Homo sapiens: one gene and its partners. The protein of the gene in region 1 interacts with the protein of each later gene in a pairwise test. Each region holds a gene or a part of one and is shown in the gene's direction. Other genes may lie near its edges.

What was found.
Region 2: the proteins of ZNF385C (region 1) and RBM47 interact in a two-hybrid assay, tested with the Homo sapiens proteins (one large-scale study listed by BioGRID).
Region 3: the proteins of ZNF385C (region 1) and SRSF11 interact in a two-hybrid assay, tested with the Homo sapiens proteins (one large-scale study listed by BioGRID).

What each region holds. Positions count from the first base shown.
Region 1 is NC_000017.11:42,091,953-42,095,603, reverse strand, and holds part of ZNF385C (zinc finger protein 385C), read left to right. Parts: intron 1-3,651.
Region 2 is NC_000004.12:40,623,238-40,626,888, reverse strand, and holds part of RBM47 (RNA-binding protein 47), read left to right. Parts: intron 1-3,651. UniProt on the Homo sapiens protein: Single-stranded RNA-binding protein that functions in a variety of RNA processes, including alternative splicing, RNA stabilization, and RNA editing. Functions as an enzyme-substrate adapter for the cytidine deaminase APOBEC1.
Region 3 is NC_000001.11:70,231,267-70,234,917, forward strand, and holds part of SRSF11 (serine/arginine-rich splicing factor 11), read left to right. Parts: exon of another isoform or gene 1-844; coding exon of another isoform or gene 845-1,001; coding exon 1,002-1,111; intron 1,112-3,429; coding exon 3,430-3,522; intron 3,523-3,651. UniProt on the Homo sapiens protein: May function in pre-mRNA splicing.

The sequences.
Region 1 (3,651 bases):
GAGAGGGAAGGGCTGGGGAGGAGAGGTTACTTCTCTCCTGTGTGTGGTGAGGGTGTGGGTCACTGGACCCCAGGAGCAAGGAGAGAGCTAAATGGGGCCGCAGCAGCAGGAGGGATGGAAGCTAGCCTGGGGGAAAGCCAGGGTTGGACCCCACCATCCCTCTGGCTGCCCTTCTCAGAGGGAGCTGCGCCTGCCACCCGGGAGGGCCCATGTGTCTATCATGTGGGTTCTCCCATGAGTTTGGAGTTTGGGCTTGGGACAGGGGAGACTGTGGGGTCAGCTGGCCAGGCGGCGGGGGTCATCCCCAGCGGGAATGAATGGTACGCTGGTGTTGACTGTAGTCAAGTGCCCTGTGGCACCTGGACACACCGTCTGTTCAGAAGAGGCATGAAACCTTTATTGTGGCTGTCTCTGCTCACTCATTGTTTCTGATTGGGCTATTTGAGGAACAGCCTGCCACGTTGGCCTCATTAGCATCGTGAGGCTCTTAATGGAACTGGATCCACACACGTGTACAGACACTCACAAACTCACTCAGGTACGCATGCCCGCCTGCACTAACCCCCAGAGGTCTGTGTATAGGGTTGTGCGCTCCTAAACCCCACCCCAGGTCAGACCCACCCTGACACACATGGCTTGTGACACCCATACCTTCACCCCAGTCACACTCTCACTGTCCCTTATTGGTGACTTTTCATTCACCTTGGGTGACCCACTGGCTCCAGTGGCCAAGGGCTGGCTTACTAGAGGGTGGCTGGGGGCCAGATGCCGGCAGCGGTTGGTTAAGCTTTTGGGACAGGAGGCAGCAGCATTGCCCTGGTGAGGCCACCCCCAGTGGGGCTCGACCCCCAAGCACTTTGGCTCCCCCCACGTCTCCCAGGAGAGTGTCTCTGGGTCCTGAGGCTGTCTGTCCTTGTGTAGTTCTCGTGAGCCTCTTTCTGCTTCGGCCTGTGAGTGTGTCTGGCCCTGCGCCTCCTGTGTGCTCCCCATCTGTGTCCTTTCCCCTCTCCTGACCCTGTCCTTTGTTATCTCTGTCTCTCCTCTCCACCCGTCTAGCTCTTTTTTCTGTGAGTCTTTCTATGTCTTTTCTTCTTCCTTTTTCTCTGCCTCCTCTGTCTACCCCTTCTCTCTCTGTCCCTCTCTCTCACACTCCCACTCTCAGTGTCTGACTGCGTGGCTATCTCTCTGGGTGGGTCTTTCTGTATCTTCACCTCTCTCTATATCTGCCTGTCAGTCTGGACATGTATCCCTCTGACTCTCTGCCTTAGTCTCTTGAGGAGTCTCGGCAAAAGGAGAGCCAAGAGTCCTGAAAGAAGGTGACAGCCAGGCACGGTGGCTCACGCCTGTAATACTAGCACTTTGGGAGGCTGAGGCGGGTGGATCACCTGAGGTCAGAAGTTCGAAACCAGCCTGGCCAACATGGTGAACCCCCGTCTCTACTAAAAATACAAAATTAGCTGGGCGCGGTGGCGCATGCCTGTAATCTCAGCTACTTGGGAGATTGAGGTGGGAGAATCGTTTGTACCTGGGAGGCAGAGGTTGCAGAAAGCCAAGATTGCGCCATTGCACTCCAGCCTGGGCAACAAATGTGAAACTCCATCTCAAAAAAAAAAAAAAAAGGTGATAATGCCTCCCAGGGGGCCACGATCACTTCTGGGCTCCTCCACTGCCAGGCAAGGCGGCAGGAAAGGGAATATCACGTCCTAGGGAGAGTGGATGGGCCGAGTGCAGTGGCTCACACCTGTAATCCCAGCACTTTGGGAGGCCAAGGTGGGTGGATTGCTTGAGGTCAAGGAGTTAGAGATCAGCCTGGCCAACATGGTGAAACCTCGTCTCTGCTAAAAAAGTACAAAAAATTAGCCGGGCTTGGTGATGGGTACCTTTAATCCCAGGTACTCGGGAGACTGAAGCAGGAGATTTGCCTGAGCCTGGGAGGTACAGGTTGCAGTGAGCCAACATCGTGCCACTGCACTCCAGCCTGGACGACAGAGTGAGACCCTCTCTCAAAAAAAAAAAAATAAATAAAATAAAATAAAAAGTAAAAAAAATAAAGAGCTGATGGCTCATCTCCTCTAACTCCTCTGTTGAGAACTCCGGGGTTTCGGCTCTGAACTCTGAAACTTTCTTCAGTGATGAGGCCCAGGGTCATAGGCCTGGGAGCAGGGCTGGGGGTCCAGAGTCATCACTCTGGGAGATAAGGGATAGAGCCCCTTGTCTGTCTGGTTGACCTGATTGACCTTGAACTGAGGGAAGGGTGTTGGGACTTGGAGTCTCCCTCAGAAGAGGCGTTGACCAGAGTGGGGCTGAATTGACACTTTTCTTTCTCCTGGAAGCAGTCAAGCTCAGCCCACCCACCCCGGGCCCCAGCTTCCTGCTCCAAACCACAGCTGTGCTCCCCACCCTGTTCCAAATATTTCTGCCAACTGCCCCAGGCCGAGGGGCCTGTTTAAACAGCCTCCCTGCCCTCTCCTGGCCTCCCCACCTCTGTGGCCTCCCCATCGCTCCCACGGCTTCTTGCACAGGAGCGGCTGTGTTGGCTGTTTGTTTATTGGATTAAGATTTCCTTGGGTGGGGCAAGGACTGACTCCACAGGTCCTTCTTCTCACTTTAGATGCCCAGGCTAGAGGCCAGACCCAGCTTTGGCCTTGCCCCCTGCCCTGTCCAGCCTTCCCCGGACCCCCGCCCCCCGCTCCCAGATGTCTCTCCTACATCCCAAGCCCCAGACTTCTCTACCCTTCTGATCTCAGCTCTGTTCAGTCCCGCATCTGATGCCAGCTGACCCCCTCCCCAGCCCCAAAGTTGAGTGCTCTGGCCCTGGAGGGCAGGATGGGGATGGGACACTCCCCCACTCCCTGCTGAGAGGAGAGGAAATGCCAGGAAAAGGCACTGGGAACAGGAACCCTTGGGTTTTCTAGGGGTTCCTAAAGAGGGACACATGGGGTGTGGTCTTTGGAATGTGGGAGAAGCCTGCCCACTCTCCCTGTTGGCAGAGGCTTGAGCCAGTCCTCCAGTGAGACTTTAGCAGAGGAATAATTCTCTGATGGGCTCGGGGCCCCTGTAAGAATCCATCTCCAGAACAATCTCCCTAGGACCCCAAAGGGCCTCCTATCCCCTGATTTTGTACAGAACTTTGCAGTATACAGAACTGCCTCATCCCATCCTATGAGCACCTGCAGAGATCAAAATTCTTTTTTTTTTTTGACACGAATCTCGCTTGCTCTGTTGCCCAAGCTGGAGTGCAGTGGTGCAGTCTCAGCTCACTGCAACCTCCCCCTCCCAGGTTCACAAGATTCTCGTGCCTCAGCCTCCTGAGTAGCTGGGATTACAGGCACATGCCACCATGCCCAGCTAATTTTTTGTATTTTTAGTAGAGACAGGGTTTTGCCATGTTGTCCTGGCTGGTCTCGAACTCCTGAGCTCAGGTGATCCACCCACCTCGGCCTCCCAAAGTGCTAAGATTACCGTCATGAACCTCTGGGCCTGGCTAAGATCAAAGTTCTTTTTGTAGATGATGAAAGCTCAGAGAGCAAAGGAACTTTCGCAGAATCAATCTTCTAGCAGAACCTGGACTGGAACCTGGGTCTCCTCACCCCTCACAGCCAGGGCTCCTTGCCAGACCATGCTGGAGCTGCTCCTTTGATTAAAAGAGTC
Region 2 (3,651 bases), on another chromosome or scaffold:
TCAAGTTGTTGTTTCCATCTTATGCGGGAGAGATTCGGGGGAAATGGCACCCTGCCATTTTTTGTGTGTGGTCCTGAATCATCCTGTTGGTAAAACTCCTGAGGTCGTCTGAGCTGGAGTTCTGATTGCTTCTGTTTCTCTCATAGTTGCTTCCCCGTCTATTCTGTGAGCGTCTGTATGGGGAGAGGCAGTGGGGAGGGCGATCTCGTCCCCTTGAAGTCAATGACCACCTGCTTTTAAGGTTCTCGTATCTTTTGCTCTGAAAAAGGTGTGGGGGAGGAAAACTTTCATTTTCCAGCGAAAGTAGAAAGGGAGAGAGTGTCTAGAGGAATAAACGGCCAAGAAACAGGTAAGTTCTGAATGTGGTCCTAGTGTGGAATTTACCAGAAAGCTCACATGGAGATTACCACTGCCCTCAAAGGATTGCAGGTAAACTAGCAACTGTGGGAAGTGGAGGCTCCTCCTCTCCTTTTGTAATTCAAATGTTCCTAGTGTACTGCAATAGACACTAGTTTGAATGAATTCAAGATATCATCTCTTGGTAAAACCAAAAGTAAACTGATTACAAAAGGCACAAACCCTTCAACCATACTCCCACTGTCTGCCTTTCCTCTACTTTCTGTGTGGTTTAAGTACACCTGAAAAAACAAAACAAAACAATTACAGCTCAGTTTATGTAACTTGCATATTTAACAGGAGCATCTTTTTTGGTTGTTATGAATCTTCCATTTTTGTCATCATAGGAACTTAGTTTATGTAAACAACGATTTGTGGGTGTGTCTAGATGCATATGGTTTATGTGTTTGTAAAGTAAAATACATAAATAAGCTGATCACGTAAAAGTGATTGTGACTATAGTAGCTCTTTTGGTGCACCCTATCAAAGCTTTTAGAGTGGAGTCATTTTAGAAATCAAAAGCACAATCTCTGCTTTTCTGAAGGCCATTTCAGGGAGATGACATCGGGAGAAGACAGAGTGCTAGTGTAACCCTGAAAACCCTTTGTGTTTTAGGAAAATATCAATCTTTTGGTCTCAGGAGATTTCTGGTTCTGCAAAATGTATGCTTTATTTATAGATTACACTCAGCCACATTAATCAAGAAAACAACATCCAGTCTCCCCAAATCACGATATTTGTCTTTGGGGATGCTATATATTTGTGGTTCTCATGAACATGGTGGCCCTGCACGAAGACCACAGTGGGTTCCTGGTGGGTGTACGCTGAATGAGCCTCCTGATTGTGCCTTGCTTCAATGAATTGTCAGTTTTGCTCATATTCCCTGAGTATCCACCAGCTGGGGTGGAAGACAACCCGTTCCCAGACGCTATGGATAATCCACATGTGGGTGAGCAAGAGTTAAGTATATGTACCAATGGGCAGTGGGTGAGTGTACAATGAATGCAGGGCATTGTGCAGCTGAAACAGGAACAGGACGCCTGTACCTGACCAAGGAAATGTCAGCATATTAATATTATAATAAAAAGTATCTACCTTTCAGAGCACTGAGACCTGGCTCAATCATGTTTGTAAAGCATTTCACGTGCCCCAAGAAAAACAAAAAGTACAGAAGTACAAAATGGACAGGGTTTTTTCAGGTGTTGTTTCTCTTAGATCAATTTAATTCCTATTCTGAAAATGTGTATTTGAGCCTTGTAAGCTCAGGTAAACCATTTGTGTTTCAAAAACGAGGGTTCCAAGTTGGTGATGATAATAGCACTGTGACTTTTAAAAAGATGGCTTAGGCTGGGCACGGTGGCTCATGTCTGTAATCCCAGCACTTTGGGAGGCCAAGGCGGGTAGATCACAAGGTCAGGAGTTCGAGATCAGCCTGGCCAATAGGGTGAAACCCTGTCTCTACTAAAAGTACAAAAATTAGCCAGGCATAGTGGCGGGTGCCTGTAGTCCCAGCTACTCGGGAGGCTGAGGCAGGAGAATCGCTTGAACCCAGGAGGCAGAGGTTGCAGTGAGCTGATCGCGCCACTGCACTCCAGCCTGGGCAACAACAACAAAAAAAAAAAAAAAAAAAAAGAAAAAGAAAAGAAAAGATGGCTTAAATAATATTTCTTTTTGTGTGTTGTCATTTGATTAAAAAATAATAACATGGTTCTTGGTACACCAAGCCCTTGCCAAGATTAGGCCCATCTTCCCAGTAGCCTTCTCAAGACAAAGTTGCCTTTGTGTAACTACAACTGGGAGGCTTTGGTGACACAGAAAATTTAATGGGGCACTGCAACTTCTTATTAACAGAAAATGCAATGGCCTAATGTTTTTGTTGTTTTTGTTTTATGTACTACCAGTTAATACCTATGATCTATTTCTCCATGAGGATGATCTTACTATTTTAGACATGTCCAGGGAAGAATGAGGTGGTTATGGCTTTACCTTAGAATTTAGTTAGATTATAAAAGGCTGCAGCATGCTGGCATGGAGGAGAGCTCAGCACTGTGGGCTAGTTTGTTATCAGGGTAATCAGCAACGTTTGGTCATGTGGTGAGAAAAAAAGGGGTTTATCTAGAGTAAAGATGCAGATTTTAGGGAAAGGATGGCTATTCATACTAAATTCACACTCCATAGCAGAGTGGCTAGGAGCATGGGCTGCCTTGGTTCCAATCTTAGTTCTGCCACTTACATGTGACTTTAGGCAGGCTAACTAAAAAAGAAAACTCTGTGACTCAGTTTCCCCAACTGTAAAATGCCTACCTCACAGGGTTATTATAAGGATTAAATAAATTAATCTGGGCCAGGCTTGGTCACTCACACCGTAATCCCAGCACTTTTGGAGACCAAGGCATGCAGATCACTTGAGCCCAGGAGTTTGAGAACAATCTAGGCAACATGGCAAAACCCCATCTCTACAAAAAATACAAAAATTAGCCAGGCGTGGTGGTACACGCCTGTAATCCCAGCTACCAGGGAGGCTGAGGTGGGAGGATCCCTTGAGATCGGGAGGCGGAGGTAGCAGTGAGCCGAGATTGCGTCACTGCACTCCAGCCTTGACAGGGCAAGACTCCATCTAAAAAACAAACAAACAAACAAACAAACAAACAAGTTTATACCTCTTTGTCTGCTATTTAATATCCTTTAAAAGGCTGAGAGTTGCCAATAAGCAATGATGAGGAGGAAAAAAGTGCATTTTTTCGTAATTAGAAAAAACTTATTAGGTCATTACTAGAAGGAAAAAAGTATGTTTTCTCAAAATTAGGGAGAGTGAAGAGCTGAGCGTGGTGGTTCATGCCTGTGGTCCCAGCTACTTGGGAGGCTGAGGCAGGAGCGTCGCTGGATGACAGGCGCTCAAGGCTTTAGTACGTTATGATTGCGCCTGTGACTAGCCACTGCACTCCAGCCTGGGTAACATAGTGAGATCTCACCTCTAAAAAATACGGAGGGTCAACCAAGAAATCCAAGAGTGAAAGGGCAGTATCAGGTGAATATCAATGAATCACAGCAGTGTGGCTTTTCTGGTGGGCTGACAGTGTACTCTTAGTTACTAAGAAAAGAGATGAGGAAGGACAGGTGGCTGAAGAAGTATTAGAAGAATTGCCTCTAGTGAAATCCTATTTGCAGAGCAAAGAGAAATCCAATAACAAGTTAGCCCTTCCCATTTGGTGCAAACAGTAGTTTGGCCCAGGGACCTCCTTTGCTTTTTGCTCC
Region 3 (3,651 bases), on another chromosome or scaffold:
AATATGTAGTTTAATTGTATTATTGAACTCTCATTTTGGGGGCTTGGGCACATTAACAGATTAATCCATCTGTATAGGGCTTTTGCTGTTGGATAGAATTTAAATTGTCTACATAAATATTTGTTTTAGGACCCTTAGATTTTATCTGAATACACAGATTAGGCTTTAAAAACAGATATATATGTCATTTTTGGCTTAAGGAGTTTGGCTAAGTTAGCTTTTCAACTGGCACTGTATGGCAGCATTTTTTGGTATGGTTAGCATGGCACATGGCGAAACATAAAGCATTTTACTGTACAGGTAAGGAATGTGCCATGTTGTTTTACCTATCTCTCTTTCTCTCTCACTCCCATGCACACATCCTGTGTGTATTCAGAGACCTTCAGAAACATTCATATTCATTTTCATGAGTCAGCAAAAGCCCTACGCTTGATTCCAACAGAATATTTCCTTTACATACTTTCTTCTCTTAATTTTTACAAAATTTGTATGGTAGGTGTAAAAGAAAATCATAGTAACTGTACCATATTATTAACCCCTAAATCAAACTTTTTTTGTCTTGTGTATCTTGATTTTTCTGTGTGCTTTATAGTGAAGCAGCCGACACGAGTCGTTGTTCATAAAACAGCTTTTGAAAGTTGAGAGCACACCCCTGGAGAACCGACTGTGCTTGCTTACGTTTGGTTCATGACTTAAAAATCGAGTACAGGTGATGAAATCTTGGCAGTGTTAACAAAAAAGTAGTGTGTATTGTGCTATTTTTTTTTACTCTAGAAACTTAACCATTTGTAGAGAAAAAGGAAACAAATTTTCACACATTGAAGTTCATTCTGACATAAAATTAATGATAAATAATCATAGAAATCAAGCTTTGTATTTTAGCGAACATAAGTACTTTCAACAAACTCAGGTGGTGTATCAGGGAGACATTTTCTGGGTGTTTTTGTGTGTTTTCTGTCTTAGAAAAGAATGTGTTCTAATGCAAGGATGTTTCTCTGCAGGAGTTATTCCTGATGAAGCTAAAGCTTTGTCTCTGTTGGCACCAGCTAATGCAGTGGCAGGTCTTCTGCCTGGTGGTGGACTCCTGCCTACTCCTAACCCACTTACCCAGGTACTAGTTCTATTGAATTCTTAAAGGGTGGGGAAAAAAACAGAATTGTGCATAAAGCTAAACATATTTGAACTTTGTAAGTACTCATAAGATTCTAGTTCAGATAGCATTATCACATGTCTATATCAAAATCACAAATAGTATAGAAGATCTCTTAGACTTTTGTATTTTAAGAACATTCTGAAAAATCATAAAATATCTGTTCTGTCACTTTTACCATTGGCTCTCAAAATAACCCATGAGTAGTTTTGGAACAGTCTCCTGAGGCATGAACACTTCTCTGAACACACTGTTAAAAATATATTCATTTGGACCAGGAAAGAAAACTGAAGTTAAAATTTCACAAGTGAGCCCTTCATTTTTTTTTCCTTCCCCTTTATCTTTTCCTGTTATTTGGGGGGTTTTGAATTACATAGGTGGCTTGAAAACAAAGGCAATTCTTGATGGAGATGTTTGATATGGGAATGTGAAAGAAAATTGGTTGCAATAGTGTTTCTAACACTGACAGTGCTGTACGAAGCTTATTTTAGAACTAAAAGGCACTTTAAATACTGTGTATTCTAATTACTGAGATTGTAACTGGTCAGTAGTTTCAAAGATTGTAGTGAATGAGCCTCAACTGGAAATTTATAAAAGCATTCTTTCTAGTGTATCATTTTGCCTGTCTAAATAATTGACTAATTGACTCTTAACTGTGAAGTGCACTATAGAATGAAAGATTAGGAGTTCCTAAGCTTTTTAGGTGTGACTTTTATCACTTAACTCCTAGGTTATTTCTTTTAACCTATAAAATGAGGATCTGAGTAATTTTCTTTATTCTTTGTTCTGTTTTGTTTTGTTTTTTTTTGTTTGTTTTTTGTTTTGTTTGTTTTTGTTTTTTTGAGATGGACAGAGTCTCGCCCTGTCACCCAGGCCGGAGTGCAATAGCACAGTCTCGGCTCACCGCAGTCTCCACCTCCCTGGTTCAAGCGATTCTGCCCCAGCCTCCCGAATAGCTAGGACTACAGGCATGCCACCATGCCTGACTAATTTTTGTATTTTTAGTAGGGATGGGGTTTCACCATGTTGGCCAGGCTGGTCTTGAACTCTTGGCCTCAAGTGATCTGCCCACCTTGGCCTCCCAAAGTGCTGGGATTACAGGCGTGAGCCACCGCGCCCAGTCCAGATCTGGGTAATTTTCTAAATTCCTTTAATGTATAAAGCTATGCAATAGCTATGTTGGACAGTAAGTTAAAATAGTATTAACACAGCATTTTGCCTGTTACGAATAAACAGTTAAATTATAGAAAGTTTGATAGTTTGTGTTTACTAAATAAATTGAAACAAGGAGAACTTGTAGCACAGGTGGAGAAAGTGAGGCTGTTTCAAAAGCTACAGATGGTTTTAAAGTAGCCTCACTTTCATGGTTTGTGTCTATTACATTATGGATTAATCAGAATTGGTGTCAAGCAGGTGGCAGAACCCTGCAGTGATTTGAACAGGGAACATTTAAGGAATTACTAACTAGTTATAGGAGATTACTAGGGGAACTCTAATGAATACAGGAATCACAAGTATAAGAAACAACCACTACCTCTGAGGCTGAAGCAGAAGGAACACCCATTTAGTTCAGGGGACTCCTCTTTCCCCATCTATGCTGAAACTTAGATTTGTTTTTGGAAGGGTGACTAGTAAATAAGTTCTCTTGGGTGCCCTGGGGAGCTGCATAAGGAGTTGGTATTAAAACTTACTGAGAGGCGAGGGCTACTGGGTGTTTGACATGGTGCTGCAGGAATAATCAGAAAGGGGACACAGCAACCAGGAAGAGCCCCTTTCTTAGTCAGTGTCCTTCCAGCACTCTTTCCAAATGAAGTCTTATATCATGGCAACTGTCAAAGGAGAAATGCTTTGTAAAGGTCCTGCCTCCGGTAGCACAAAACAGCAGGGCAAAGAATAGTAGATTTGGATCCTGAGAAGCAATAAATAATTAAAATCAGCACAAGAATATGTTGAAATATTTTGTCTTTTTTTCTTAATCTAGGATTTAGGGGGGAAATGTGTTGTAATGGGTGGAACATGGGTGTCATATAGAGCAAGACTCCTATTTCTGTTAATAGATTGTTATTGGACCACAGCCATTTGTTTAGGTATCGTCTCTGGCTGCTTTCAAGCTATGATGGCAGTAGTTATATGGTTTGTGTACAACTGAGGAGTTGTACGGAGACCATGTAGCCTGAAAACTCAAGTTGTTATCTGACCCTTTACATTAAAAAAGTATTAACCCCTGGTATAAGGAACTGAAATGAAGTTTTAAATAAATAAAATTTGCCATTTCACAGATTGGCGCTGTTCCACTGGCTGCTTTGGGGGCTCCTACTCTTGATCCTGCCCTTGCTGCACTTGGGCTTCCTGGAGCAAACTTGAACTCTCAGGTATACCTTAGTAACTTCAAATTTTTCACCCATTTTTACAGAAGATCTGTTTCATTAACTGTTGGTTTGCATTTCAAGAGCAGAAGCTAATGGCTATGTTGTAGTAATTTTTTTTCTTGTTTAAACTTG